3 separate regions of the Homo sapiens genome follow, and regions 1 and 2 are each linked to region 3. The links come from fine-mapping of genetic effects on gene expression. A gene starts in region 3. Each other region holds a variant in brackets. All regions are shown on one strand. Distances are from middle to middle. Region 1 overlaps ZNF717 (zinc finger protein 717). Region 2 has its middle 30 kb from the start of MIR4273. Region 3 holds the start of ZNF717 (zinc finger protein 717).

Region 1 (10,124 bases), 23 kb before region 3:
GCAGAAGAAAAGTCTGAAGCTAGAAGAGCTTGTTTCATGAGGTTTAGGGAAAAAAGTCATCTCCATAACATAAAAGTGCAAGATAAAGCAGCAAGTACTGATGGAAAAGCTGCAGAAAGCTATCTAGAAGATAACTGATTAAGATGGCTACACTAAATAGATTTTCAATGGAGACAAAACAGCCTTCTGTTAGAAGGAGATGCCATCTAGGATATTCCCAGCTAGGGAGGAGTTGATGCCTGGCTTTAAGGCTTCAAATGACATGCTGACTCTTTTGTTAAGGGCTAATGCATCTGGTGATGTTAACTTGAAACCAATGATGATTTACTATTCTGAAAATCCAAGGGCCCTGAAGAATTATTATAAAACAGCTCTGCCTGTACTCTACAAATGGGAACAAAGCCTGGATGACAGACTATCTGTTTACAAATATGGCTTACTAAATATCTTAAGCCCACTGTTGACACCTACTGCTCAAGAAATAAGATTTCTTTCAAAGTATTACCGCTCAATGACAATGCTCCTGGTACTCAAGGGCTTTTACAGAGATGTATAAAGAGCTGAATATTGTTTTCATGCCTACTAACCCAACATTCATTCTGCTGCCCTTGGATCAAAGAATAATGTCAACTTTCAAGTCTTATCACTTAAAAAATATATTTCATAAAGCTATAGCTTGTCTAGAAAGTGATTCCTTTGATGGATCTAGGCAAAATAATTGAAAATCTACTGAAAGGATTCACCATTCTAGATGCCATTGAGAACATTCATGATTTAATAAAGAAGATCAAAATAGCAACATTAGGAGAAGTTGGGGCCGGGCATGGTGGCTCACGCCTGTAATCCCAGCACTTTGGGAGGCCAAGGTGGGTGGATCACAAGGTCAGGAATTTGAGACCAGCCTGGCCAACATAGTGAAACCCTGTCTCTACTAAAAAAAAAAAAAAAAATTTATCTGAGCCTGGTGGGGGATGCCTGTAATCCGAAATACTTGGGAGGCTGAGGCAGGAGAATTGCTTGAACTCGGGAGGCGCAGGTTTCAGTGAGCTGAGATCGTGTTGTCACTGCACTCCAGCCCAGGCAAGACTCCATCTCAAAAAAAAAAAAAAAAAAAAAAAAGAGAGAGAGATAAGTTGTCAAGATTATTCCAACCCTCACAGATGACACTGAGGGGTTCACGACTTCTGTGGAGGAAGTAACTGCAGATATAGTGGAAATAACAAGAGCACTAGAATCAGAGACAGAGCCTGAAGATATGGTGAGACTGCAGCAGCCTCGGGAGAAAACGTGAGTGGATGAGTTGCTTCCACAGATGAGCAAAGAAAGTAGTTTCTTGAGATGAAATCTACTCGTGGTGAAGACAGTGTAAACACTGTTGAGATGACAACAGATTTAGAATAAACTCAGTTGGTACAGCAGAAGGAGGGCTTGACAGGATTGAACCCAATGATTTACAATAATACATAAACTTAGTTGGTACAGCAGTACGAAGGCCTGACAGGATTGAATCCAATTTTGAAAGTTCTACTGTGGGTAAAAAGCTCTCAAACAACATCGTATGCTACAGATCATTCTTTTGTGAAAGGGAGAGTCAATTGACACAGCAAACTTCAATGTTGTATTATTTTAAGAAATTGCCACAGCTACCCCAACCCTCAGCAATCACCACCTTACATTAAGGCAAGACCCTCCATCAGCAAGAAGACTGCAACTTGGCCAGGTGCAGTGGTTCACCCCTGTCATCCCAACACTTTGGGAGGCCAAGGTGGGGGGATTGCTTGAGCCCAGGACGTCGAGGCAACATGGCAAAACACCATCTCTACAAAAAAAAAAAAATTAGCTGCACATGGTGGCACGCACCTGTAGTCCCAGCTAGTCAGGAGTCTGAGGTGGGGGTTTGATTGAGCAGGAGGTTGAGGCTGCAATTACTCCAGCCTGAGCCACAGAGTGAAATCCTATCACACACACAAAAAAAGATTGCAGCTTGCTGAAGGCTCAGATGACTGTTAGCACTTGTTAACAATAAAGTATTTGTAAACTAAGGTGTGTACACTTTGTAGACATATGCTGTTGCACACTTTATACAGCACAGTATAAACATACTTTTACATGCACTGGGAAACCAAAAGAAATTGTATAACTCACTTTATTGCAGTGGTCTGGAACCAAACCCACATATATCTCTGATGCATGGCCGTCCTGTATTGTACACTTAAAAAAAAAACTTAAGAGGGTATATTTTAGGTGAAATGGTCATCTAATTTTTTTTTTTTTTTGAGACGGAGTCTTGCTCTGTTGCCCAGGCCATAGTGCAGTGGCGTGATCTCGGCTCACTGCAAGCTCCACCTCCCGGGTTCACACCATTCTCCTGCCTCAACCTCCGGAGTAGCTGGAAGTACAGGCACCCGCCACAACGCCCCGCTAATTTTTTCTATTTTTAGTAGATACGGCATTTCACTGTGTTAGCCCGGATGGTCTCGATCTCCTGACATGATCTGCCTGCCTCAGCCTCCCAAAGTGCTGCGATTACAGGTGTGAGCCACCGCGCCCAGGCAATTTTTATTTTTTTGAGACAGAGTCTCACTCTGTCACCCAGGGAGGAGCGCAGTGGCACTATCTTGGCTCACTGCAACCTCTGCCTCCCAGGTTCAAGCAATTCTCCCGCCTCAGGCTCCTGAGTAGCTGGGACTACAGATGCATACTATCACACCTGGCTAATTTTTTGATTTTTAATAGAGATGGGATTTCACCATGTTGGCCAGGCTGGTCTCAAACTCCTGACCTCATGTGATCTGCCCACCTCAGCCTCCCAAAGTGCTGGGATTACAGGTGTAAGCCACTGTACCCGGCAATTTTTAAATATATATAATTAAAAATTAATGAAAAACAGGTATTTGCAGGTTTCCGTTTTGGTATAGGTTTATTTATCTTTATGTCAGGTTGCTGTGTCAATACACTTAGGAGATCATAGTTTCTAAATTGAAATACATACAAATATGTCTGAAATTTTTTCTTTCTTCTTTTTTTTTGAGACGGAGTCTCACTCTGTCACCCAGGCTGGAGTGCAGTGGTGCAATCTCAGCTCACTGCAACCTCCGCCTCCCAGATTCAAGTGATTGTCCTGCCTCAGCCTCCACGGTAGCTGGGATTACAGGCATCCGCCACCACACCTAGCTAACTTTTATATATTTTTTTTTTCTATTTTTAGTAAAGACAGGGTGTCACCATGTTGGCCAGGCTGGTCTCCAACTCCTGACCTCAGATGATCCGCCCGCCTCGGCCTCCCAAAGTGCTGGGATTGCAGGTGTGAGCCACTGTGCCTGGCCTGGAATTTTTTTCTAAAGTTTACATTTCTGAGTTAAGAATGCTTAAAATATTATAAAAACAGAAGCACAATTCATTATGTGTTTCATTAATCACCTTTATTAAAAACAACGCAATTATATTACAATAGGACAAAAAAATGTTTAGGCAAATGAAAACAAAATCATGACATACCCAAACTCAGGAGGAGGCAACAAAGGCAGTGCTAAAGGGAAGCTTACAGCTGCAGATGCTTAAATTAAAAAGAAGAAAGATCTCAAACCCATGCTAAAGGGAAGCTTACAGCTGCAGATGCTTAAATTGAAAAGAAGCGAGATCTCAAACCCATGCTAAAGGGAAGCTTATAGCTGCAGGTGCTTAAATTAAAAAGAAGAAAGATCTCAAATCAATAACCTAACATTACACCTGAAGGGAAAAAAAAACTAATGACAAACCAAGCAAAAGGAAGAAAATAACAGATTAGAGCAGAGATAAGCAGAATAAGACCAGAAAAAAGAAAGGAAAAAAAAACACTGAGTTTGTTTTTTTAAAGATCAATAAAAATTTTAAAACTCACAGCCATATTAAGAAAAAAAGAGAAATCTCAAATACTAAAATCATATATAAAAGAGGTGACAGTACAACAGATGCCACAGAAATGAAAAAGATTACAAGAGACTAATGTGAGCAAACCATATGCCACAAAACTGGGCAACTTAGAATAAATTTATAAATTCCTAGAAACACAAACCACCATACTGCATCATGGAGAAATAAAAAATCCAAAGAGACCTGTAACTAGTAAGAAGATTCAACCAGTAATCAAAAACCCCCCAAAAAAGAAAATTCCAGGTCCAGATAACTTCACTGGAGAATTTTACCAAACATTTCAAGAAGAATTAATGCCAATGCTCTGCAAAATATTCAAAAAATGTTCAAAAACCAGGAGGGGACATTCCAATCCATTCTATCAGGTCAACATTTATCTGGTTCCACAGCGGGATGAACACCTTTCATAATAAAAACACTCAAAGAATTAGTAATAGATGGAAACTCCTCAGTAAATAAAGATCGTACATGAAAAGCTCACAGCTAACATCATACTCAATGGTGAAAAACTAAGAACTTTTCCTCTAGGATCAGGAACAAGATAGCAACATCTCCTCCTGCCACTTCTATTCACCACAGTACTGGAATTTCTACTCAGAATAATTAGGCAAGAGAAAGAAATAAAAAGCATGCAAATTGGAAAGGGAGAAGTATAAAATTTTGTTCACAGACAACAGGATGTAATGTGTAAAAATCCTGAAATTCCACAAAATACTGGTAGAATAATGAAATTCAACAAAGTTTCAGGATACAGTAACACACACAAGTCAGTTGCATTTCTGTAAACTAACAATGAACAATCTGCAAATAAAATTTTAAAAACAGAGGCCAGGTGCAGTGGCTCACGCTTATAATCCCAGCACTTCGGGAGGCCAAGGCGGGTGGACCAACTGAGGTCAGGAGTTCGTGACCAGCTGGGCCAACCCCATCTCTAATATAAATAGTAAAACTCTGTCTCTATTAAAAATACAAAAATTAGCTGGGCATAGTGGCAGACACCTGTAGTCCCAGCTGCTTGGGAGGCTGAGGCAGGAGAATTGCTTGAACTTGGAAGGTGGAGGTTGCAGTCAGCTGAGATTGTGCCACTGCGCTCCAGCCTAGGAAACAGAGTGAGACGCCATCTCAAAAAAAAGAAAGAAAGGAAAGAAAGAGAGAGAAAGAAAAGAAAAAAAGAAAAGAAAGAAAAAGAAAACAAAAGAAAAGAAATTTTTAAAAAGAATGACATTTGGCCAGGTGTGGTGGCTCATGCCTGCAATCCCAGCACTATGGGAGGCCGAGGCAGGCAAATCACCTGAGGTCACAAGTTCAAGACTAGTCTGGTCAACATGGAGAAACCCTGTCTCTACTAAAAATACCAAAAAATTAGCTGGGCATGGTGGCGTGCACCTGTGATCCCAGCTACTTGAGAGGCTGAGGTTGGAGAATCGCTTGAATAAGGAAGGTGGAGGTTGCAGTGAGCTGAGACAGTGCCACTGCACTCCAGCCTGGGAGACAGAGCAAGACTCCATCTCAAAAAAAAAAAAAAAAAAAGAATTACATTTACAACAGCATTTTAAAAACTAGAAATTAGCTTAACCAAGAGGGCAAAAGATTTGAACACCAAAAACTACAAAACACTGTCGAAAGAAACTAAACACAAATCAATGAAAAGAAAAGCTGGGTTTGCAGATGAGATGATTTCATCTTGGAATGATGTCAACACTACTCGAAGTGACCTAGATTCAATACAATCCTTATAAGGATTCCAATGACATTTTTGATAAACAGAAAAACCCATCCTAAAACTCATATGGAATCTCCAGGGCCCATGAATAGGCAAATCAATCTTGAAACAGAACAAAATTAAAGGTCTCAAAACAATTACAAAACTGCAATAAGCCAAAAAAAAAATGTAGTCATGACATAAAGACACACGAGAAACTTATGGACCAACACAACAGATACCTCATAAACCAATCCTGGCATATATGGTCCAATGATCTTCCACAAGGATGCCAAGACCACTCAATGGTGAAGGACAGTTTCTTCAACAAATGGTGTTGGGAAAACTGTATATCCACATGCAAAACAATGAAGTTGGACTCTTACCTTACACCACGTTAAAATTAATTCAAAGTGAATTATAAACCTAAATGTGAAACTAGAATTATCAAACTCCTAGGCAAAACAAATTTGGAAAATGCTTTATGACAATGAATTTGTCAATAATTTTTAGGATATGACATTAAAAGCTCAGGCAGTAAAATCAAAAACATATCAAACCTAAAAGTTTCTATACCTCAAAGGTCACAACCAACAGGGTAAAAGGAAACTGTAGAGTAAAAGAAAATACCAGTT[G/C]AGCGTCCCTTATTTGAAATGCTTGGGATGTGTTTCAGATTTTGTAATATTTGCATTATTCTTACTGGTTGAGCATCTCAAATTCAAACACCTGAGTCTGAGATGCTCCAATAAGCATTTCCTTTGAGTGTCATGTTGGCATTCAAAAAGTTTCAGACTTTGGAGCATTTGGGATTTCAGATTTTTGGATCAGAGACATTCAACCTATAGCTGCACATCATGTATCTCATAAGAAGTGAACATCCAGAATACGTAAAGAACTCCTACAGAGAGACTACCAGAAGCAGAGAGGAGCAAACACATTTTCACACTGGGGCACCTCCTATCTCTCCTGGATTCCAATTAGGGCAGAGTAAGTGCTAGTTCTCTGCCAACCCAGGATTAGGCCCTGCAGCTGCAGTGAAAATAATCACAGAAGAAAACTAAGAAATAAAAAATGGAGAAAGTGAGACATCAAACTAAAATTACTAGAAACACCTAGGAAGAAGGAAAAAGAAACCAAGAAAACAGAAAAACAATCAAACCAGTTAATTAAACCTTGGAGTGACCAGAAGATCAGAGTTTCCTAAAGGAGTGGAAATTTACTGATTTGAAGAGGATTTATTGATTACTGATTTGAAGAGGAAGAAAAACCATTAATGGTCTAAAGCAACAGCCTAGTGCCTGAAGAAGTCAGTAGGGTGAAAACAAGAGCTGACCAGAATGTCCACAGATGGTGACAAGTTTGCAAAATCTTTACTAGACTACTCGTGAGGCTAACTAGAGGCCAAGGAGCCAACCCTGCCCCTGTCATTACAGAGAGACCCTACACAGGATTCCCAGATATAGATGGAAGGACAACATCTTATCAGGTCCTCTCTGTGCAGATGTGGTTGTTATTCCAAATAATGAGCTCCAGCCCCAAGCCTGCTCCATCCTCAATTGCTTTTGAGTGGCCAATGTGGGCTCTCTGCACACGAGCTACATGTAGGTTCCTTGGGTACCCAGATGGGAGCCGTGAAACACAAATCCTCCATGGTCAGTTCCGTATCTGTTTCCTGCCTTTTTCCCAGCAGTTCCCAGGCCTCAGTAGCAGTGGTCTACCTCTGCTGATTCTCATTCGGAATCTAAACTTAGAGACAATTAGAACCTGGACCCCAATTCTACCTGAAAGTAACAGAATAACATAATCTATACCATGCAGCATGACTGTTTGCCCAACGTAATGAGGATGAACTGTGATATAATGAATGATCATGACCCTGGCCCAACGTAACGAGAATGAACTGTGAGATAAATGATCATGACCAAAAAACCCCGCTACAACCCAACAACAAAATAAAGTGATTAAAAAGTGGACAAAGAACATTTATCCAAAGATGCAAAGATGATATACAAATAGCCAACAGATACATGAGATATATGAGAAGATGTGTAACATCACTAATCATTAGAGAAATGCAAATAGAAACCACAATGGGACATCACTTCAAACCCAACAGAAAGTAACAAGTGCAGGTGAAACTGAAACCCTTGTACACTGTTGGTGGAAATATGAACTGGCTCCTCAAAAAAAAAATAAAATGACCATATGATCCAGCCATCCAACTTCTACAGAGAGACAGAATAACTAGTAGCAGGACCTCAAACAGATATGTGCACACCTATGTTCACAGCAGCATTACACAGCCACAAGGTGGAAGAAACCAAAACGTCCATCCAGGAATGGACGGATAAACAAAAGGATATATATATATATATATATATATATATATATATATATATGTATATGTGTGTGTGTGTGTGTGTGTGTATATGTACAAAGAAATGTTATTCAGCCATAGAAAGGAAGAAAATCCTGACACATCTGACACATAACATGAAACCTACTTAACAAAACAACAAATATTATATAACCCCAGGTATATAAGCCAAATTTTTAGAAACACAAAGTAGAATAGTACTTGCCAGGAGGTGGAAGGAGGGGGAAATTAATAGTTGTTGAATGGGTATAGAGCTTTCCAAGATAAAAAAAAAATCTAGAAATCTGCTACACAACACTGTAAATATTCTTAACTCTATAAAACTGTATACTTACAACTGGTTATGATGGTAAATTTTAAGGTATGTGTTTGTCACCAAAATTCGAAATAATAAATTATTTATAAAAAATGATCTTTTTTGATACAGGGTCTTACTCTGTTGCCCTGGCAGGAGTGCAATGGCATGATCACAGCTCACTGCAGCCTCGACCTCCCAGGCTCAAGCAACCCTCCCACCTCAGCCTCCCGAATAGTTGGGACTACAGGTGCACACCACGATGTCAGGCTAATTTTTGGTTTGGTTTTTTTGTAGACAGGGTTTTGCCATGTTGCAGGCTGGTCTCCACCTCCTGGGCTCAAGCAATCCACCTCCCCTGGCTTCCCACAGAGCTGAGATTACGAGCATGAGCCACCATGCCCAGCCTATAAAAAATTATTTGAAAAAGCCAAAAGATTAACCGAACTGGAATATTTACAAATATTTAATTAACCCAAAAGAAGTTAGGAAAGAATATATAGAAGATCAAAAGACAGACGAAGGCCAGGCATGGTGGCTCATGCCTGTAATCCCAACACTTTGGGAGGCCAAGGTGCGTAGATTGCTTGAGCTCAGGAGTTCAAGACCAGCCTGTGCAAAATGGCAAAACCCTATCTCTACAAAAAATATAAAAATTAGCCAGGTATGGTGCCATGCACCTGTAGTCCCAGCTACTCAGGGGGCTGAAGTGAGGACTGGTTGGGCCTGGGAGGCAGAGGTTGCAGTGAGCCAAGATTGCACCATTGCACTACAGTCTGGGTGACAGAGCAAGACCCTGTCTTAAAAAAAAATAAACAAACAAATAGAAAATAAGTAGAAAAATGGCAGACCTAAATCCAACCTTAGTAATGATTAGTTACAATGTAACTGGACAAATACTCTACTTAAGACAGAGACTGCCAGACCTGAGAGGAAAGCAAGACCCACAATATGGCATCCACAGAGACACAATTTAAACACAAAGACACAAACAAACTATGAGAAAAAATATGCTATGCAGACACTAATCATAAAAAGATGGTATCCAGACACTAATCATAAAAAGCTTCAATGGAGATGTTAACACTAGATGAAAGAGGCTTCAAAACAAAATATATCACCAGAAATAAACAGGGTACTTTCATAAAAGTAAAAGAATCAGAGAGGATGATATTAAAATTATAAATTGTGCCTCAAAGTGCACACAAAGTACACACACACACAAAACCTCAAAGTACGTGAATCAAAAACAACAGAACGAAAGCAGGAAGTTGACAATCCACAATTATAGCTGGTGAATTAATACTGCTCTCTCAGTAACTGACGGAACAACCAAATAAAAAAATAGGGAAAATACAGATCTAAATGACAAAATCCTGACCCAAATGGTATTTATGAAGCACACAGTTGAGCACTACCAAGACAGACTGTATGTCCATCTATTGAGAAAAGGTTCAAGCCTGAAATAGTATGCAAAGTATGTTGTCTCAACACTTGAAATTAAATTAGAAACCAACAACAAATAGATATCCAGAAAAGCCTCAAATGTCTGAAAACCAAGTAATAAACTTTGAAACACCCTGTGAGTCAAAAAAAGTATTCACAAGGGGAACTGGAATGTATTTGGAACAAACTTGTTATAAAAATCACATTTCTGGTAGACTAAAGGTGACAACTTCTTTCCTGCTCCTCTCTCTGTGAGAACCAATTCCCCTGAACCTTGCCCAGACTACTGACTTATTTGGCCAACAGAAGGTGACAAAGGTGGTATTTGGGGACTTCAGAAGCCAGGCTGAGAGAACGGAACACTTATCCAGGAGAAAGCCAGTCACCAGGCA
Region 2 (10,124 bases), 77 kb before region 3:
ATCTGGGAGATGGAGGTTTCAGTGAGCCAGGATGGTGCACTGCACTCCAGCCTGGGCAACAGAGCAAGACTCTGTCTCAAAATAATAATAATAATAAATAAATAAATAAAAATAAAAATCTCATTGTGTTTCAAACAAAATTTCTTTTGAATATCAACTGTATCAACTTCCATATTAACTATCATTTTGTTTATATCCAATCTTGAGAAATCTTTGAGGACTAATTTTACTGTTTTCTGCCATTTTGGTAAACATACCAAATTCCATCAAACAAAATGCACAAAGTTCCTAAGAAATACATTTTCTCCTTGAGGAGTAGACTTGCTGTGTTAGAGGGACTCATGGCTACCAACCTTCTAGTTTAACAAACATGACCAGAATACTCTATCTTAATATGAGTAGCTAGGTACTCACAAGGCATCTAGAAGGTTAATACTCATGGTCTGAAAATAGCCACATTTTTTAGCTGGCCACAAATTACAATTGCAGAATATCTGTGGCCATACAAGACATCTTCCACCAAGCCTGAAAAATGTATAAATGTCCTAGGAGTGTAGCATTTTTTGTAAGGATAATATTAATGAGCTAGCTTAGGACAGTGGGTTAATGGTCATTGTTAAAACCAATAGCCTTGACTTTAGTGAGTACATCTGCACCTTCCAAGTTTAATTATAACTCTTTCTCTTTATAGTTACTTATAAGTAGAGACACTAACAAAAGACAATGCACTCCTGCTCTTGTTTTCTGAGGATGTCCAACTCTGTAATGGAGTCATTTCTAATAAACTTGCTTCTTTCACTGTGCTCTCTGACTCACCTCAAATTTTTTCTGCATAAGATCTAAGAATCCTACTTTTTGGTCTGTATCAGGACCCTCTTTTCCAGCAACATCTTTCGGCAATATCATGAAGGGACGCCAAGACAAGACCCCCACTCCAAGGAAAACAATCCACACAGAATCAATCAGCTGGCAAGTGGGCCATCTTTTAGAGTCGTGAAGCCATTCAGGCGGGCAAGAACGATTATCCACTATTATTTAAGTGAGAGACCCTAGGGCATAATGTTAGGGTGAGAGACTCAGCCCCAAAAGTTAGAGGCCCAGGGGCATCATATTCAGATTAGAGGCCAAGCTCACAGGGTTAGAGGCCCTTGGGAATACTGAGAAGAATGGGTTTGGCTAAACAAGATGTTTGCCACTTTCTCTTTTTGGACTGTCCACCTTCCGCTCTCTGTCCCTCACCTGAGTGCTCTGCATCTTGTCACCTCTCTGCTCAGCGCCTCAGTTTTGTAGTAGCCTGGAGGCTGCCCCAGGAAAGAGGCCCCAAACAGTTTAGCTTTTACTTTCCTCAACTATCCTCTGACTTTTATCTGATTGCTTGTTTAATTTGCCACTGGTCCAAGTGACACTGAAAAAAGAGAGATGTCTTGGAACCTAGTATTTTTGTACCTTAATTATCAGAAAAGATCAGCAGTAACCTCTCCATCATTATGACTAGAAGTTGAAATGTGGTATTTAACAGCCCTACATGATAAGATCAGATATGCCTGTTTAGTGGCAGCATCTTTTATGACAACCCTCTGCAAACAATTAGCCTCAAGATGGAGAACATAATTTTTCTTAACAGTTTTCTCTCATTTCTTAACCATAAGGTCATCTTTGATGAGCTGGTATAGGGCAGCTGTACCCTACTTTCTAAACCCAGCATGTCACTTTTTTCCTGAAAGAGTTTTGTCAGTTTTGTCACAGCAGTGTGAAAATGGACTAATACATTACAATGTACAAGTTACAGCCTTCCCATTTCCCCGTTCGATCTGACTCCTATTTTGCAGCTTAATTTGTTTTACAGAAGAGAAACTAAGTGGGAGGAAATACATTATATACAGGCTTCTCTGATGCTTGGTCAGGATAAAAAATTAAAATGGGCTTCTATATGTTTGATGGAGGAAAAGACAAAATAGGGATGGCACATAATTGATTACCCTTTTAATGCAAGTGCCTCTTAATATCAGGCTTTTCTTGGCTGGGGCTGAACTCCCCCTGCCAGTTCAAGCACCCCATAAGAACCCAGTCAGACTCCTTCCAGTTCTGGTGAGGTGTGCAACGCGTTATTAATTTCTTCTAGTTTTCCAGGGTTATCTAGTGTTTGGTCATCCTCTTCTCCCTCCCCTTCAAGTCTTGTCTTACATATATACCCCACTCTCGAAACACCTGAGCTTCACTGGAACAACATGCAGTAGGGCCTCTTATCAGCTGGCAAAGTTGAATGTTTGCCCTCTCTGGGAAGTGACAGATGATAATAGGGACACTGTATAGGTATATGTACCCTTTTCTATGTCTGAATTAGCCATATGCAAGGAAAAACTAAAACAATTTTCAGAGGTTCTGGGAAAATTCATAGACAAATTTAAGAGGCTAACCTTGATGTATAATCTGACCAGGCAGGATTTGCATATATTTATGTTTACCTGCTGCATGGTAGAAAAGCAGTGCATTATGGGAGTGGCTAGAGTACATGCTAATAGGGTGGCAGCCTGCAACCAGGGACATGACACCTATCAAATAGGAGGCACACCAGTGCCTGACCAGGACCCAGAAGAGAACTAGAATCTAGAAAAGACAAATGAATTAGGAAGAAAATGGGATATAGAGAGAAAAAATTACAATCATTTGACTCCTTGAAGGAATAAAAAAAAAGTGTGATAAAGCTTTTTAATTTTTATAAAGTCTGGAAAATTACTCAGGGAAAAGATGAAAACCTAGCATTATTAAAACGGTGGATAATTTAGACTTTGAGGAAATACACTAACACTGACCCTGACCCCAAGAAGGGACAGGCATTGCTAGCAGTTTATTTTACAGCCCAGTCTGCTTCTGATATCTGCAGGAAGACACCAAAAGCAGCCTTAGGCTTCCAGACTCCCATGGATCAGATTTTAGACTTGGATTTTGCAGTTTTCCATCACAGGAATAGGGCAGAGATAACATAAAATAAAGCAAATCTCCCAAGAGGCCCAGCTTCTAGCTGCAGCCTTGTGCTCTCCACCACTTCAGAGGCAGCCCCTGGGCCCCAGGCCTCACAGAGGAGGTGAGAAGGTGAAAGTCCCACTCTGTGCCTCTGAGCCACTGTGCCTTGGATACAAATCAATGTGCCTTCTGTAAGAAGGTCAGCCACTGATGAAGGAAATGCACTGTGCTTCCAAGGGAGCCATCATCAGAGCCCAGCAGACTCAAAAGTGATAGGGTCTGATACTTCCTACCTCTGCTCCCATTGGACTATTAGCTATCGAGAGATGGAGGAGACTCAGGTGACTCTTGAAGTGGCAGATAGGAGTATTAACTTCATATTAGGTATGGGAGCAGATGACTCTGTCCTGATTCAATACAATGGGCTCCTGTCTTCTCATGATGGACAAGCCCCAAAACACTGCTTATCATATCTTCTAAGTTGTCCTCCAGGGCCTCTGGGCTTCTCACCTGCCTTTTTAGTACTGTCTGAATGCCTGACCTCTTACTGGGGAGAGGTTTATTGACTCAGAAGACCAAGTCATGGTCAACTTCACAGATCATAAAGCATAGAAAGTGTTACTTTTGTTCCTGACCCCTCAGGGGAAGTTAAGAATGAGCTGTCACATTTACTGCCTGAAGTGTTGTCTCAAGTAAATCTTGAGGTTTGGGCCACACAGGCTCTGGGAAACACACTAAACACCTTCCCCATTCAAATCCAACTTCAGCCTAGTGCTCCTCACCCTCAGAAAAGACAATACATATTAAGGCAAGAAGCATGAGGGGAAATTCAACCCCTTAGCACCAAATTCTTGCCATATGAGTTATTAAGGCCATAAGAGTCCCCTTACAATACTCCCATGTTACCAGATAAAAAGCCTAATGGCAAGTACAGATTTGTCAGAACCCTCAGAGCATTAAGAAATGCAGTTGTCTCCATACACCTCATTGTCCCCAATACTTACCGAGTCCCAGGGGATGCAAGCTAGTTTACATTCTTAAATCTGGGGTGGGGTGGAGCCAAGATGGCTGAATAGGATTGGCTCTGGTCTACAGCTCCCAGCATGAACGACGCAGAAGATGTGTGATTTCCGCATTTCCATTTGAGGTACCGGGTTCATCTCACTAGGGAGTGCCAGACAGTGGGTGCAGGACAGTGGGTGCAGTGCACGGTGCACAAGCCAAAGCAGAGTGAGGCATTGCCTCACTCAGGAAGCTCACGGGGTCAGGGAGTTCCCTTTCCTAGTCAAAGAAAGGGGTGACAGATGGCACCCGGAAAATCGGGTCACTCCCACCCTAATACTGCGCTTTTCCAATGGGCTTAAAAAATGGCACACCAGGAGATTATATCCCGCACATGGCTCAGAGGGTCCTACACCCACGGAGTCCCGCTGATTGCTAGCACAGCAGTCTGAGGTCAAACTGCAAGGCAGCAGCAAGGCTGGGGGAGGGGCGCCTGCCATTGCCCAGGCTTGATTAGGTAAACAAAGCAGCCGGGAAGCTCGAACTGGATGGAGCCCACCACAGCTCAAGGAGGCCTGCCTGCCTCTGTAGGCTCCACCTCTGGGGGCAGGGCACAGACAAACAAAAAGACAGCAGTAACCTCTGCAGACTCAAATGTACCTGTCTGACAGCTTTGAAGAGAGCAGTGGTTCTCCCAGCACGCAGCTGGAGATCTGAGAACGGGCAGACTGCCTCCTCAAGTGGGTCCCTGACCCCC[G/A]AGCAGCCTAACTGGGAGGCACCCCCCAGTAGGGGCAGACTGACACCTCACACGGCTGGGTACTCCTCTGAGACAAAACTTCCAGAGGAATGATCAGGCAGCAGCATTTGTGGTTCACCAAGATCCGCTGTTCTACAGCCACTGCTGTTCTGCAGCCACTGCTGCTGATACCCAGGCAAACAGGGTCTGGAGTGGACCTCTAGCAAACTCCAACAGACCTGCAGCTGAGAGTCCTGCCTGTTAGAAGGAAAACTAACAAACAGAAAGGACATCTACACCAAAAACCCATCTGTACGTCACCACCATCAAAGACCAAAAGTAGATAAAACCACAAAGATGGGGAAAAAACACAGCAGAAAAACTGGAAACTCTAAAAAGCAGAGTGCCTCTCCTCCTCCAAAGGAACGCATCTCCTCACCAGCAATGGAACAAAGCTGGACGGAGAATGACTTTGACGAGTTGAGAGAAGAAGGATCCAGACGATCAAACTACTCTGAGCTACAGGAGGAAATTCAAACCAATGGCAAAGAAGTTAAAAACTGTGAAAAAAAAATTAGACGAATGGATAACTAGAATAGCCAATACAGAGAAGAGCATTGCTGTAAAGAAATACCTGAGGCTGAGTTATTTATAAATGAAAGAGGTTTAATTGTCTCATGGTTCTACAGGCCTTGTAGGATGCATGGTTCTGGCATCTGCTTCTGGTGAGAGCCTCAGGAAACATTTATTCATGGCAGAATTTGACGTGGCAGCAGGCACATTACATGGTGAGAGCAGGGGCAACAGAGGGAGGGGAGAAGTGCCACATCTTTTCTTTTTTTTCTTTTTCTTTTCTTTTTTTTTTTTAGATGGATTCTCACTCTGTCACCAAGGCTGGAGTGCAGTGGTGTGATCTCGGCTCACTGCAACCTCTGCCTCCTGGGATCAAGCGATTCCTGTTTCAGCCTCCTGAGTAGCTGGAATTACAGGCTCATGCCACCAAACCCAGCTATTTTTTTGTATTTTTAGTAGAGATGTGGTTTCACCATGTTGGCCAGGCTGGTCTCAAACTCCTGATCTCTAGTATTCTGCCCAACTCAGCCTCCCCAAGTGCTGGGGTTATAGGTGTGAGCCACTGCACCCAGCCTCCACACACTTTTAAACAACCAGAACTCACATGAACTCTGGGTGAGAACTTATCACCAAGGGGATGGTGCTAAACCATTCATGAAGGACCTGCACCCATGATCCAGTCATGTCCCCAGGCCCCACCTCCAACACTGGGGATTACATTTCAACATGAGATTTGGAGAGGGCAAACACCCAAATCACATGAAACACAAAGGTTTTCAAAGGAAACAATGAGGAAGGTTACATAATTGTTTTGAAATAATTATCCTTGGCTACAAAAATCAATAACAATCGTGATGCCAGTCCATGGTTGGAAGGCAGTAGTTACTGGGCAGATGTCCTTACAGAATTTTTTTTTTGTATAACGTTGTCACGGACTTTGTGCAAGGTTGTAATTTTTGTAGAATCTTTTTCATCATCAGGCATACACGCATGAGAATGCTCTCTTCATGGCCTTCCCCAGCTCGAGCTGTCAGAGTTTTCTTATTACTAGTGACTCCATTTTGATTCAGACAACTTTCACGTTTCCCTTTTGTGCTCCAGATCTTTTTCCAAAAGCATCACTGATCAATCATCTTTAAGTTTGGTTTTGATGGCCCTTGGTGCTAGGATGGACCTATTTTGGTTTTTGTTCTCATCCCACATTGAGGCAGGGGGTAATTGGCACCTAAGAGTCAGTGTCAAAATCCTTTTAGGCATATTTGGAGCAACAAGGGAAATTTGAAGGGAGTAGTTTTCAGGCTAAGTCTACCTGGAGTTCATTATTAAGTTCGATTTTGTCTGTTCTGTAGTCTTTTGCTATCATCTTAAAGTGCTGTACTGGTATTATTCTGTTAGGAGTTGTACTTTTGAAAAAAAACTTAAGTAATGGATACACAGTTTAAAAAGGGAAATTATGAAGTAAATAGTAATAGGACAATTCTAGTTTGCATAATGGCTTTGAGCCATTAACCTAGGCTTACAGACAACTAATTGAATAAATCAAATGATCACAAGGAATCAGGTGAGATGGTGTAACCACATGGCCTGTCTTCTTCTTTTGTGTCTATAAATTTCTAATTTCATAGAGAAATTTATCCAGGTACAGCATATAGTATTGACAATAACACAGTCATTTTCTCATTTAACCAAAGGATACTTATGAGCAGAAGCTATTGATTGTGAATTTTCATTCACATCATTATTCTGCCAAGTGAAAAATGTAGCATTAAGGAGGAGGAGGGGTAAAAATCTCATCACGTGGAGTCTTGTTCTAATGACCTGGGAAAATCTGTTCTAATGACCTGGGAAAATCGGCATGAAAACATTAACTTCTCCTGCTTTGTAGTTTGAATGTCTTTGGTCATGACATCAGTTGGTTTGGTGCACTCTTTCTGTGATCCATACATCAGGCACAAGTTTATTCTTTAAAATTTATCTAGTTTCAGCTCATAGGGCTTTAGTAACAGAGCAGCTTTTGCCTTTAGTTGGAGAGTTGTTGCCAAATTAGGAGAAATACATTAGGAAAATTCAGGATCTAGTATAATCTACATGTAGATAACAAGAACTTGAAAAGAATGCACACATTTACAATCTACTAACAGAGGCATTATAGTTTTTCTTTAGAAACAGAACTTTCTCTCTACATTAATTTACAGAAAGTTCAGGTTTAAAAACCTCTTGAGGCCAAAGCAAGGGAGGTTTTAGATTTTACTTACAATCTTAAAGTTTTTGGGCCTGCCAGGAAGTGACAATTTTTACTCATTCACTGTCAGGCTGGAAGCACTGGAAGCCAGGCATTTTATGCACATTCTTAAATATGATATTTCAGTCAAAGCCTTAATAATATAACCAAGGTTTTCAATGGTATTCTGTTTATGAAGAGAAACAGATATTTATTGAGTAAAAATAGAAGAATACTCACAAATGGTTTCCAAATTTTGGAGGAATCAAGTAGGGAGACAAAATGAATGCTTCCATCTTTGTTCAAAAAATTATACTTTACTGAATTTTTGTAAACTATAGGTAGCTTACGAGATAAAGTTTTCTTAAATCTGGAAAACAAAATATTTCAGAACCAATAATGTTTCAAATAAAAGTCATAAAAACATCATCTTCGTGAACCACTTAATTTCATGTAATTGTTTTGTTTTGTTTAATCTTGATTAACAGTTTTATAAATCCATCAGCTTATTTATTTGAGCTCTGGAGATTTTTATTTAGTCTACTGATCTTAAATTATCAAAAATTTTGCCAGGCACAGTGGCTCACATCTGCAGTCCCAGCACTTTGTGAGGCTGAGGCAGGTAGATCACTTCAACTTGGGAGTTTGAGATCAGCCTGGGCAATATGGAGAAATCCCATCTCTATAAAAAAAATACAAAAATTATCCAGGAGGCTGAGATTAGAGGATTGGGAGGTTGAGGATGCTGTGAGCCAAGACTGTACCACTGTATACCAGCTTGGGCAACAGAGTGAGACCCTGTCTCAAAAAATTTATTGGAATTCTGTGTTCAAGAGTATTTGTTATTTTCTATGAAAAGCAGTTTTGGACTACAGCAGATTGCAAACACTTTTGGAGAAATTTTCAAAACAACTGTGAATGACAAAAACTTGGAATAGCCATGGTTTAAAATCTGATCAAAGGTCCTAATTGACAATGAAACTTGGTTATTTTTATTTCATGCAACCAGAATCATGACTGACTACATCACATCAGGACAATCAGACTTTTATTAATTTCAAGTTATGTTGGAGTAAAACACTGTTTTTCTAGATTTTTCAGGACATATATTTCACCATCAGGACATAACAGCAGAGTTGGAACCACAGAAAAAAAGTTACAAGAGTTGACAAAAGGTTGAAGGAAAGTTATCACCTCAGCCAAGCACAATGTTATGCCTTTTTAGGCAAGAAAAAAGGGGAGCTGAATCTCCATCCTCAAACTAGGCAAATTAAATAGATCTCAGAAAGATATTTGACAGAAATGGAAATTGTCTGTAGTTTAGAAGATGGCTGTTAAGGGAACAGATTTCAGAATTAAAACTCAAAACCTCTTGCAACTTTATGAAAACTAAATCAATACTTTAAGAAAACCTTGTTGTTCTAACATAGGGGACCACAGTTTTTCAGGTTTGTATTAGTGTATTTTTAATGCCAAAGCTTAATCCTTAGAAAGACTTTTCTAATTTTATTTAGAAAACTAATAAATTAATTTTCAGAAGAATTTAATTTTCTTCTGATTGTAACCAACTTGGTCACATGCAAAACATCTTGCATAAATTCCCTTTCACAAATGAGTTACTCAGACCATTGGTGACATTCTTGGGCTTTCCACTTTGTCCTGTACTTTCCCTCTTAAATAACTAGACATTTTAGTTTAGGATGAAAATTTACCACACAAGATTCTTTGTCATGTGAAATATTTCTTTTCTTTTCAACCTTCTCCTATCTCCATCTCCCTATCAATAACTTTCTTCACATCTCTCTCTTCTACTTACTGGTTCTTCTTTAACATTTCACTGTTTTTTTGCTGAATCAATATTTTGAAACAACCTTTAAATAACCTCCAAATTATATAAAATTATTACTTCTTTCTCAATAAAGAGCATATTTGTATGCATTTCTTATACATTTTTTCTTATTAAAAATTCATCCTACTTTTTAAGGCACACTTTTATATAGAATTATATATATTAGTTAGGCTAGGCATGGTGGCTCACACCTGTAATCCCAGCACTTTGGGAGGCTGAGGCAGGAGGATTGCTGGAGCCCAAGAGTTCGAGGTTGCAGTGAGCTATGACCATGCCACTGCATTCCAGCCTGGGTAACAGAGTGGGATCCTGTTCCCCCACCCCACAAAAAGAATTATCCATATTAATTAAAATTTTATTATTTTATTTTATTTGAGACAAGTCTCAATCTGCCACCCTTGCTGGAGTGCAGTGGCACAATCACAGTTCACTGCAGCCTCAACCTCCTGGGCTCAAGCAATCCTCCCACCTCAGCCTCCCCAGTAGCTGGGACTACAGGCATGTGTCACCATGCCTGGCTAACTTCTGTATTTTTTGTAGAGATGGGGTTTTACCATGTTGCCCAGAGTGGTCTCAAACTCCTGGGCTCAAGCGATCCACCCACATCGGCCTCACGAAGTGCTGGGATCACAGGCATGAGCCACTGTACCTGGCCTATATTAATTAGAATTTTAAACTTGTAGTAACCTTAAATTATAGTGAAAACTTAGGAAGCAGGAAATCTGTCACATATCAGTATTATCAGTATTTTATGGGTGAGAACAATTTTATAGCAATAT
Region 3 (10,124 bases):
CTAAACAGGAACCCAAAACAATGGGAGTGACTTGCTAAAACCAGAACCCAAAACAATGGGAGAGACGTGCTAAACCAGAACCCAAAGCAATGGGAGTGACGTGCTAAGCCAGAAACCCAAAACAATGGGAGTGACGTGCTAAGCCAGAAACCCAAAACAATGGGAGTGACGTGCTAAAACTGGAACCCAAAACAATGGAGCTGACGTGCTAAAACTGGAACCCAAAACAATGGGAGTGACGTGCTAAAACCGGAACCCAAAACAATGGGAGTGACGTGCTAAACCCAGAAACCCAAAAAATGGGAGTCACGTGCTAAAACTGGAACCCAAAACAATGGGAGTGATGTGCTAAACCGGAAACCTAAAACAATGGTAACTAACAGTAGTGCTAAGGCCCTACATTTTGGTCACACTCTCAACTAAGTGAGAACTTGACTAAAAAGGAGGAATTATTTTTTTTCTGAGATAGAGTCTTGCTCTGTCCCCCAGAGTGGAGTGCAGTGGCAAGATCTTGGCTCATTGCAAGTTCCGCCTCCCGGGTTCAGGCCATTCTGCCTCAGCCTCCCAAGTAGCTGGGACTACAGGTGCCCACCACCACGCTCGGCTAATTTTTGTATTTTTAGTAGAGACGGGGTTTCACCGTATTAGCCAGGATGGTCTCAATCTCCTGACCTTGTGATCCACCCACCTCGGCCTCCCAAAGTGCTGGGATTACAGGTGTGAGCCACCACGCCCAGCCAAAAGGAGGAATTTTTTAAGCAAAATTATGCGAGGCCATTGTTTTAAACTAAGCTCATGCAATAGGTCCCAACAGACCAAACCAAACCAAAATGGAGTTACTCATGCTAAATGTAACATAATCAAACTAAGACTTTAAGGAAACACATAAATCCTAGAACAAACCAGGTTTTGTTTTTCTCCTGTAAACAGGACGTTCCAGCATAAGAAGGTACCTTCTACTCAAGTCCTTGGTCCACCTTTTCAAAACTCACTGGTCTATTTCCCAGTGGGTTTCTAAAGCAAGTAAGTACATTTGCAATGGTAATAGTGACACCAGTGACTGAAGTTTTGGCCAATCTCTCAAAATTGAGAAAATAACCAAAGGGAAGGAATTGTTAAAGTGAACTAAGTATGGCCTGAGAAGGACTCCATAATTCTATATATGAGTCCTTGTGGATGAACTGCAACCTACCTTAATAGGTAGACAAGAATGAAAACCTAACTTGAGAGTATGCACCTGGAACAACAGCTGCGTCTTGGCCAATCCCAGTGGCCAAACTTCAACCACTCAGGCACTGCCAAGTGTTCAAACTGTGTTCAAACAAGGCAAATGCTGAGTTGTTTCTGTACCTCACTTCTGATTTCGGTATGCCACTTCCCTTTTGTCTATAAATCTTCTTCCACCAAATGACTGTGCTGGAGTCTCTGTGAATCTGCTGTGTTTCTGGGGACTCTCCGATTCATGAATCGTTTATTGCTCAACTAAACTCCTTTAAAGTTTTTCTTTTAACAGAACTAACACAGAAGAATTTCCAGATCATGAACAGACATTTTGTAATACCCAAAGTTGTGTTAACATGAATAGACTCGTCCTTAGATACCTAACCTTGTTTTTAATATGAATAGACTCTCCCTTAGCTGAGAAAACCGGACAAACTCCATTTGGCTCCTTCATTTATAAGACATCAAGGGCTCCTTACCCACTCCCTTTCCTCAAGGACTTTAACTTGTGCAAGCTGACTTTCAACATATCAAAGACTGCAATTAACTGATAAAGCGCTGAGGCAAGTGATGTCTGCAGTTCCCAGCAATTTACTCAGAGATAGTATCATAAAGCCCGCACATTTGTCCGGCAGCTAACGCCCAGAGCCCCCTCACCTATCACTTTGTGGTGAATTTAAAGCCCCTGCACCTGGAACAGTTTGTTTTCCTGTAACCATCTGTCGTTTTAACTTTTTTGTCTGTTTTTTCTTCTGTAAGGTTGCTGCAGCTAGAATCCCCCCTCCCCTCTCTAAACCAAAGTATAAAAGAAAAGCTAGCCCCTTATCCGGGGCCGAGAGAATTTCGTGCGTTAGCCATCTCTCAGTCGCTGGCTAATAAAGGACTCCTGAACTCGTCTCAAAGTGTGGCGTTTCTCTCTAACTCGCTCGGATACGACAGTTTCAACTATGGTAGAAGACTCGAGTAAGGCAATCACAGTCCCCCTAAATTTGACTATTATTTAGGTTAATGGTGAGTTTAGAAGAAATAAGTTAGGACTACACAGAGTGGGCTAAAGTGCAAATAAACACTGGAAGTATTTCCCAGAAAATATAACTTTGAACAGGCTGCTGCACACCCTGCATGTAGAGATAAACTAAGATAAAGGTGTGGAGAGTTATTTAAGGACCTGTGGTTAACTCAGTTCTCAAGATGTTCCAGGTTTCATCCATGAATCAAGGAGCACCTCCCAAAAGCTGTTTGGGACCACACTCTTTGAGCAAGGAGCATACCTTACAATGGAAGCTGTGCTTTGGCAGCAGATGCCCATTTCCACTGCACAACAGGCCGTGCTTTAGTGGAAGATGACTGTTTCCACTGCACAACACTACAAGTGTTTACTGCCAGGCTGGTGTGAAATATGTTCCACCACAGCAAGGAGCATACCTTATGATGGAAGCTGTGCTTTAGCGGCAGATGACCATTTCCACTGCACAACACACTGTGCTTTAGCGGCAGATGACCATTTCCACTACACAACACACTATGCTTTAGCAGCAGATGACCATTTCCACTGCACAACATGCCGTGCTTTAGCGGACGATGACCGTTTCCACTGCACAACACACCGTGCTTTAGCGGCAGATGACCATTTCCACTGCACAACACGCCGTGCTTTAGCGGATGACGACCGTTTCCACTGCACAACATGCCGTGCTTTAGCAGAAGATGACCGTTTCCACTGCACAACACTACAAGTATTTACTGCCAGGCTGGTGTGAAATATGTTCCAGCACATAACCTATGTCACCACCGAAGGTGGTGGTTCAGACTTGGTGCACACAAGCTTTCCTGTCCCACAAGAACACAGCATGCTCTCTTCGCGGGTTCCATTCCAATCACGTAACAACCATGACTGACTTTTTTGTCACTGCATCAGAAAGATCAGAGGAAAATTTGCACTCAACTTAGACAACTCTAAGCTCTTACAACCTGTCTATATCTACAGGTCAGCTTTATCTTATTTATGTATATTTCCTTCAACCTGAGTTTTACTTATTTCCACTTTTCTTTTTTAATTCACAGACACCCATAAACTCAGAAAATACAGTGTAAAACAAAGTGAAGAACAAATAAACAACTCACCAGAGATTTATTCTTTTCTTGTAGCTCTTGGAAACAGCCAGAGAACACTGGAAACATAGCTGAGAGAGAAGGCAAATGACGTGAATTAAGGAGAGAACTGGTGTGGTGTGGTCCCAGATTCTTCTGCCCAACACTCTAGACACATTACCTGGAAAAGCCCTCCTCCCTCCTGAAAAAGAAAAACTTCCCCATGGGAGAAGAGTCCTTCAAGCCTCATTAGGGGCAGCAAAGACTCAAGATAAGATACATCTACAAGTACATTAATTGGTAGACATTAGATGCACAATTTATTTTGAATAAAAATATGTATTACCTACTAATTTAGCAACAATATTACCTAAAGATACAATCTAATAATTTAATACAAAGAAACATTATAAGTTCACTAAAATAAATGTTATAGAAATATACTGGGCTGTATTAACTATTTTCCTATTAATATGTGGATTCCACAAATAACTTCATATGAGTGTTCCCATGACAGTACATCTTGCTTTTCTATACCTGAACATCATGGAAAGTGCATCTTGCAACCCAGCAATTTTGGCCTACAATTACTTTTTTTTAAATGTACATAATATGTATTTCCTGCAGTACACCATTCTACTCATGTTTCCCAATAACACCTTTCCCTGTATCCAAGCCCTCATATTATGCTCTGACAATAAATTGGGCTTTTCCATCTGACTTGTCCAGTGAATGGACAATGGAAAATGTGATGCAAATATCCATTGGTTCTTGCCTTTTTGGACACAGTCATATTGTGAGGAGGTCTGGAGCTACCCTGGTGGAGACACAGGGCCTAGCCAAGAGTCACCACAAACCGCCAGATTGTGAAGGAAACTATCTTAAACCAACCAGGCTCAGTCAACCCACCATGTGACCAAGGCCTCTTTTGTGATCCAGGCAACATAAATATATCAACTACCCAGCTGAACCCACCACACCAAAATGCAGATCCACAGAACTTCAAACAAATAAAATGGTGGTTGTTTTTTATAAGCCAGTAAGGTTTAATTAGTTCCTTAAACAGCAAGTATTAACTGTTACACCTAAGTGAACAGAATTCAATATGTTTTTAACAAAATTACGTAGGGGGAGAAAGTCTTAAATTACAAATCAAATACAATCGATAGAACTTCACAATCTAATGCTAAAGCTAAATTTGGTGATGGACTAGGTTTAATATATCTCAAACGCTGGAAACAACGAGGAAAGGTTGAAGGAATGGGACTGTGTTTGGAGAGTATTTTAATCTTCTCAGGTATGACAGGTCACTCCTGTACCCCAGACCACACTTTCAGGCCCCTTCAAATAAGGAATATTTCCTAGGTCCTTGCCTGTTCTTCTCAGCCGAATTCACCTCAACCTTCTGAAAGTTCGTCCAAACCTACCACTGTCACCTAGTCTTTGCAAATCTTGTGCATTCTAGGGAGTAGAATTAATATTTCCCGAGCGAGGAAAACTGGGATCTTCACCTGTGACCTTTTATCCTCCTCTGAAGCACCAGTGGGAGGTTAGACCAGAGGGCTGTTCTTTCAAGTGCGCTTCTTATTCATAGGGAACCCTCCCTTTCAAACCTTATAACACACGGTTAAGACTGAAGTACCCTTAAGGCTGAAGACCATCATCCAGTACCCCATCTCCCTCGCGGCATCAGTGAGTTCTTCCCTGGAAACTAGGTCTCGTATAAACTTCTGTAAACGCAACCCAGGAGGACTAGGCAGGTCACACAGTGAAGGAGGGAACCAGAAACTTCACTTGCTAAAGAGACACCGGGAAACCCAACTAATACAAACGCCCAGTTTAAGACTCGAGGCGCACGCGTTTCGCACTACTCCTCTGGGAATGGGGAACGTCTCCCGAGAACTGTGTGTTCGCACTGGGACAGATGGGCAAACTGAGCGTCATGCGGGTTGGTAACCGGCTCCCTCAGCGGCAGGACAGGAGCGCGGCCTGCAGACTCCGGGCCCAGGGCCACCGGCCTCGCCTACCCGCTCCTGCGCCTCTAGAACCCGCTTCACTGCCGGGACCCCACGCCTGTCCTCCCAGCCCCCGCCAGGGTCCGCGGCCTGCACCTGCACTTCAGGCCCTGCCCGCCCGCGATGCGCCCACGCGTCTGCTCCCACAACTGGGGAACACTGGTCCGGCCCCCCGGGATCCCCCGGGCCCACGGGTTCCTCTTCGCCCTCGCACCGACCCGCAGGGACATAGAACCAAGCCCCAGGCTGGCCCAGCTACAAGACCGCCTCTGGGTGCCGCACTTCCGGAGGAAAATGGCGGAGTGGGCGGGGCGGCGCATGCGCAGAGAGAAAAGCTGGTTCCCAAGGTCCTTGATGGTAACATCATTGGAAGGTGACACTACATTTCCCATGAGGCTCTGCGGTCCCCGGTTAGGAACCCAAGCCGGACATTCTGTTTTGCCCAGCAGTGAGTCCAGTTACCCAGAGACCCGGACTTAATGGATCAGGACTGGTCCCTACCCAGGTGACACAGATGTGGCATTCTGGTTCTTTATTAAATCCTGGTTTCACAGCCTGGCACATTGTGAAAATAATGGAGAAATTTCAATAGAGGCCAATTGGTCTATGCTATTAATGAGTAACTTTTTTTTTTTTTTTTTTTTTGAGACGGAGTCTCACTCTGTCACCCAGGCTGGAGAGCAATGGTGCGATCTCGGCTCACTGCAACCTCCGCTTCCCGGGTTCAAGCGATTCTCCTGCCTCAGCCTCCTGAGTAGCTGGGATTACAGGTGCGCGCCACCACACTCACCTAATTTTTGTATTTTTAGTAGAGACGGGGTTTCACCATGTTGGTCAGGCTGGTCTCGAACTCTTGACCTCGTGATCCGCCCTCCTCGGCCTCCCAAAGTGCTGGGATTACAGGCGTGAGCCACTGCGCCCAGCCCTCAAGTCTATTTTTTATAAATGCATTCGAAAGCATGAAAAAAATCATGTCTCTATTTTACTTTAAAATTTTAAAAACACAACTAATGAATATGGTAATTCTCTTCCAATCCGTTATCTTTTCTCTCACTAAACTAATTTATAAGCCTTCAATTTACACAGTTACAAAAAATGCTCTAGTGCATATACTGGGATAAAATAACAGGGTCATAAGACAGGTGCACTCCATAATCTTTGTGACAACTTACACTTCCAGTGTCTGATAAATATTTGCCCATAAACTCCCACGTTTCATCCATCCACCAATCAATCAAATCTAGCTATCTTTATTTATTTATTGTGAGAAAGACCTGAACTTTGCCTTTCCTTCCCTGATTTCTGCCACAAACTAGGCAAGGATTTCTGCCTAGGGGTTTCTCAGAGCTCCGGCCACCACCGAGGTTCCTAACAGGGAAACGCAAGCTTGAATGCTCAGGGTTGATGTGGGAGTGCGTGTGAAACGGGGTTGGGGTGAAAGGGCAGTGAAGTTTGTAGGTGGGCAGATGAGGGTGTGAAGGGCTTTCAGGTAAGAGGCACGCAGGAGACTGGGAGAGGCAGCGAAAGCACCTCACGCCTCAGATCACCAGAAGACGCTTCCACCAGTGCCGTGACAGTTTGCCAATGCCACGGCAGCACGGGAAGTCCCCACCCCTTGCCATGGAAACAGCTGGAAGTTACTGCCCATTTCTAGCTATTTCTGAATAACCCGCCCCTTAATTAGCATGCCATTAAAAGTGAATTATAAAAATGACTGCAAGCCACCCCCAGGCTGCTACTCTGGGAGCACAACCCACGGAGGGCTCCCTGCCCTGCAGGAGTGGACGCAGGGCTGTAACACCGCCAGTGCCTCCGTAGAGCTGCTTTCTTCCACCACAGGCTTGCTTTTGGATTCCTTCCTGAGCGACGCCAAGAACCTGCCCTTCCTCAGTGTGACTCTTGCCTAAAACCTATCCCTGGTTTTCTCTTTTCCTAAGCATGCCCTGACTTGTTCTTTCATCTCCTCGGATCTTGCAATTGCTCCTCAGTGACTCTATTCTGCAGATCCAGAAAACTCAACCTTAATCTTCCCAGAGCCCTGTTGTCTCCAATATCGGAATCTCTAGCCTTGCTTTCTCAGACGCCTAGATTACAGGCCTCTCTCTTGAACACCTATTGGTATGGTATCTGGGGATCCTTTAAATACACGATGATTGGCAGGGGTTACATAGCGGAAATCAGTGCCTGACAATTTGCCTTCCAGGATATGGACTGTCATTCCCTCTCTTGGTGGGCCTCAGTCTCTTATCCATAAAAGTAGAGATTGTAATACTCATTTGAATTGCAGATACCTCAACCTGAACCCACCTAATATAACGTAAAAGCCAAGACTGCAACCCCTTTCCTCACCACGTGAAGGTGAAGTCCTCAGAGCCAAGGAGAGAAGGCTCAGGGATGATACCTGGGTGTCTCCGACGCTAACCATGTATTGCAGTTTTTAGTGTTCAAGTTTAAGCTTCCCCAGCTTTAATTCTATTGTAACAAGATTTATTTTTGTAATTCCATTTTTGGATTCTTGATTTCTTGGTAAAGAAATACAGTTATTTTTGTATATCAATCTTATATAGTGTTACATTCTTAAATTTGTTCATGAGTCCTAATACTTTTTAGTAAATTTCTTACGATTTTCTAAATGCAAGATCATGTCATCTGTACATAAAGATAACTGTACTTCTTCCTTTCCAATCTAGATGCCGTTTATTTATTTACGTTGCCAAGTTGTCCCAGCTACCACTGTTATCAAGTAAAAGGGTCTCACTGCCCAAAGCACTAGAAGCCGGTACCACGACACTGAGTTTTCGAGAAAAGAAAAAGTTTAAAGTCAAACCAAAACCTATGGGGTACAGGCCGGGCGCAGTGGCTCATGCCTGTAATCCCAGCACTTTGGGAGGCTGAGGCGGGCGGATCGCGAGGTCAGGAGATCGAGACCATCCTGGCTAACAGAGTGAAACCCCGTCTCTACTAAAAATACAAAAAACAAAAATTAACCGTGCGTGATGGCGGGCGCCTTTGGTCCCAGCTACTCAGGAGGCTGAGGCGGGAGAATGGCGTGAACCCGGGAGGCGGAGCTTGCAGTGAGCCGAGATCGCGTCACTGCACTCCAGCCTGGGAAACAGAGCGATACTCCGTCTCAAAAAAAAAAAAAAAAAACCTATGGGATACAGTAAAAACACTACTACAGTACTAAGAGGTAAATTTATAGCAAAAAGCACCTGCATCAAAAAAAGTAGAAAAGCTTCAAATAAACAACCTAATAATGCATCTTAAATAATTGGAAAAGCAAGAGCAAACCAAAACCAAAATTAGTAGAAGGAAACATAGCAAAGATCAGAGCAGAAATAAATGAAATTGAAATTTAAAAATATAAAATATCAATGAAATGAAAAGTTAATATTTTTTAAAAGACCAACAAAATCAACAAACATTTAACCAGACTAAGAAAAAAGAGAGAAGACTCAAATACATAAAACCAGAGATTAAAAAGGAGATACTACAACTGATACTGCGGAAATTCAAAGAATCATTAGAAACTATTATGACTGACTATATTCCAATAAATTGAAAAACCTGGAAGAAATGGCCAGGCACCGTGGCTCATGCCTGTAATCCCACCACTTTGGGAGGCCAAGGAAGGTGATCACCTGAGGTCAGGAGTTCAAGACCAGCCTGGCCAACATGGTGAAACCCCATCTCTACTAAAAATACAAAAATTAGCCAGGCATGGTGTCATGCACCTGTACTCCCAGCTACTCCAGAGGCTGAGGCAGGAAAATCACTTGAACCTGGGAGGCAGAGGTTGCAGTGACCTGAGATTGTACCACGCTCCAGCCTGGGTGACAGAGCAAGACTCCATCTCAAAAAAAAGAAAACAAAAAAACAACCAAACAACAAACCTAGAAGAAATGGATAAATGAAATTGAAGCCATAATAAAACATCTCCTAGTAAAGAAAAGCCTGGATCCAATGGCTTCACTGGCTTCACTGATTAATTTTACCAAACATTGAAGGCAGAATTACTATCAATCCTACTTAAACTATTCCAAAAAACAGAGAAGGCTGTAGTATTTCCAAACTCATCCTATGAAAAAGACCATTCATCATGTCTAAGTGGGATTTATCCCGAGGATGCCAACATGGTTCAACATATGCAAATCAATCAATGTGACACATCATATCAACAGAATGAAGGACAAAAACCATATGATAATTTCAATTGATGCTGAAAAGCATTTAATAAAATCCAACATCCCTGTGATAAAAAGAAACCCTCAAAAAAAAACTAGATATAGAAGGAACATACCACAACACAATAAAAACCATATGCAACAGACCCACAGCCAGTATCATCCTGAACAGGGAAAAGCTGAAAGCCTTTCTTCTAAGATCTGGAACAAGACAAGAATGTCCACTTCCAACACACAGTACTGGAAGTCCTAGCTAGAGCAATTCAGACAAGAGAAAAACAATAAAAGGGATCCAAATTGGAAAGAAGTAAAATTATTACTGTTTTCTTGTTTGCAGATGATTTGATCTTATATTTGGAAAAACCTAAGGACTCCACCAAAAAACTATTAGAACTGATCAACAAATTCAGAGTCACAGGATACAAAATCAAACTACAAGAGTCGGTAGCATTTCTAAATGACAAAAATGAACAATCTAAAGAAGAAAATCAAGAATGTAATCCCATTTACAATAGCTACAAATAAAATAAAATATCTGGGAACAAACATAACAGAATAAGTGAAAGATCTCTACAATGAAAACTATAAAACACTGATGCAAAAAAATTAAAGA

What was found.
Region 1: its variant is fine-mapped to the expression of ZNF717 in whole blood (TOPMed, PIP above 0.99).
Region 2: its variant is fine-mapped to the expression of ZNF717 in whole blood (INTERVAL, PIP above 0.99).

Annotation. Positions count from the first base shown.
Region 1 is chr3:75,757,018-75,767,141 of GRCh38, forward strand. The region is part of intron 2 of ZNF717 (zinc finger protein 717); the gene reads right to left. Among named protein-coding and RNA genes, the nearest start is that of ZNF717, 23 kb to the right of the region's middle. The variant G/C (reference allele first, on the strand shown) is at 6,250.
Region 2 is chr3:75,703,451-75,713,574 of GRCh38, forward strand. It overlaps a transcript of ZNF717 not described here and the pseudogene RN7SL92P. Among named protein-coding and RNA genes, the nearest start is that of MIR4273, 30 kb to the right of the region's middle. The variant G/A (reference allele first, on the strand shown) is at 4,724.
Region 3 is chr3:75,779,961-75,790,084 of GRCh38, forward strand. ZNF717 (zinc finger protein 717) reads right to left here and starts at 5,589. Exons shown (of 5, transcript NM_001290208.3): 1 at 5,424-5,589; 2 at 3,346-3,404. The coding sequence starts at 3,402. RefSeq lists an enhancer at 5,702-5,851.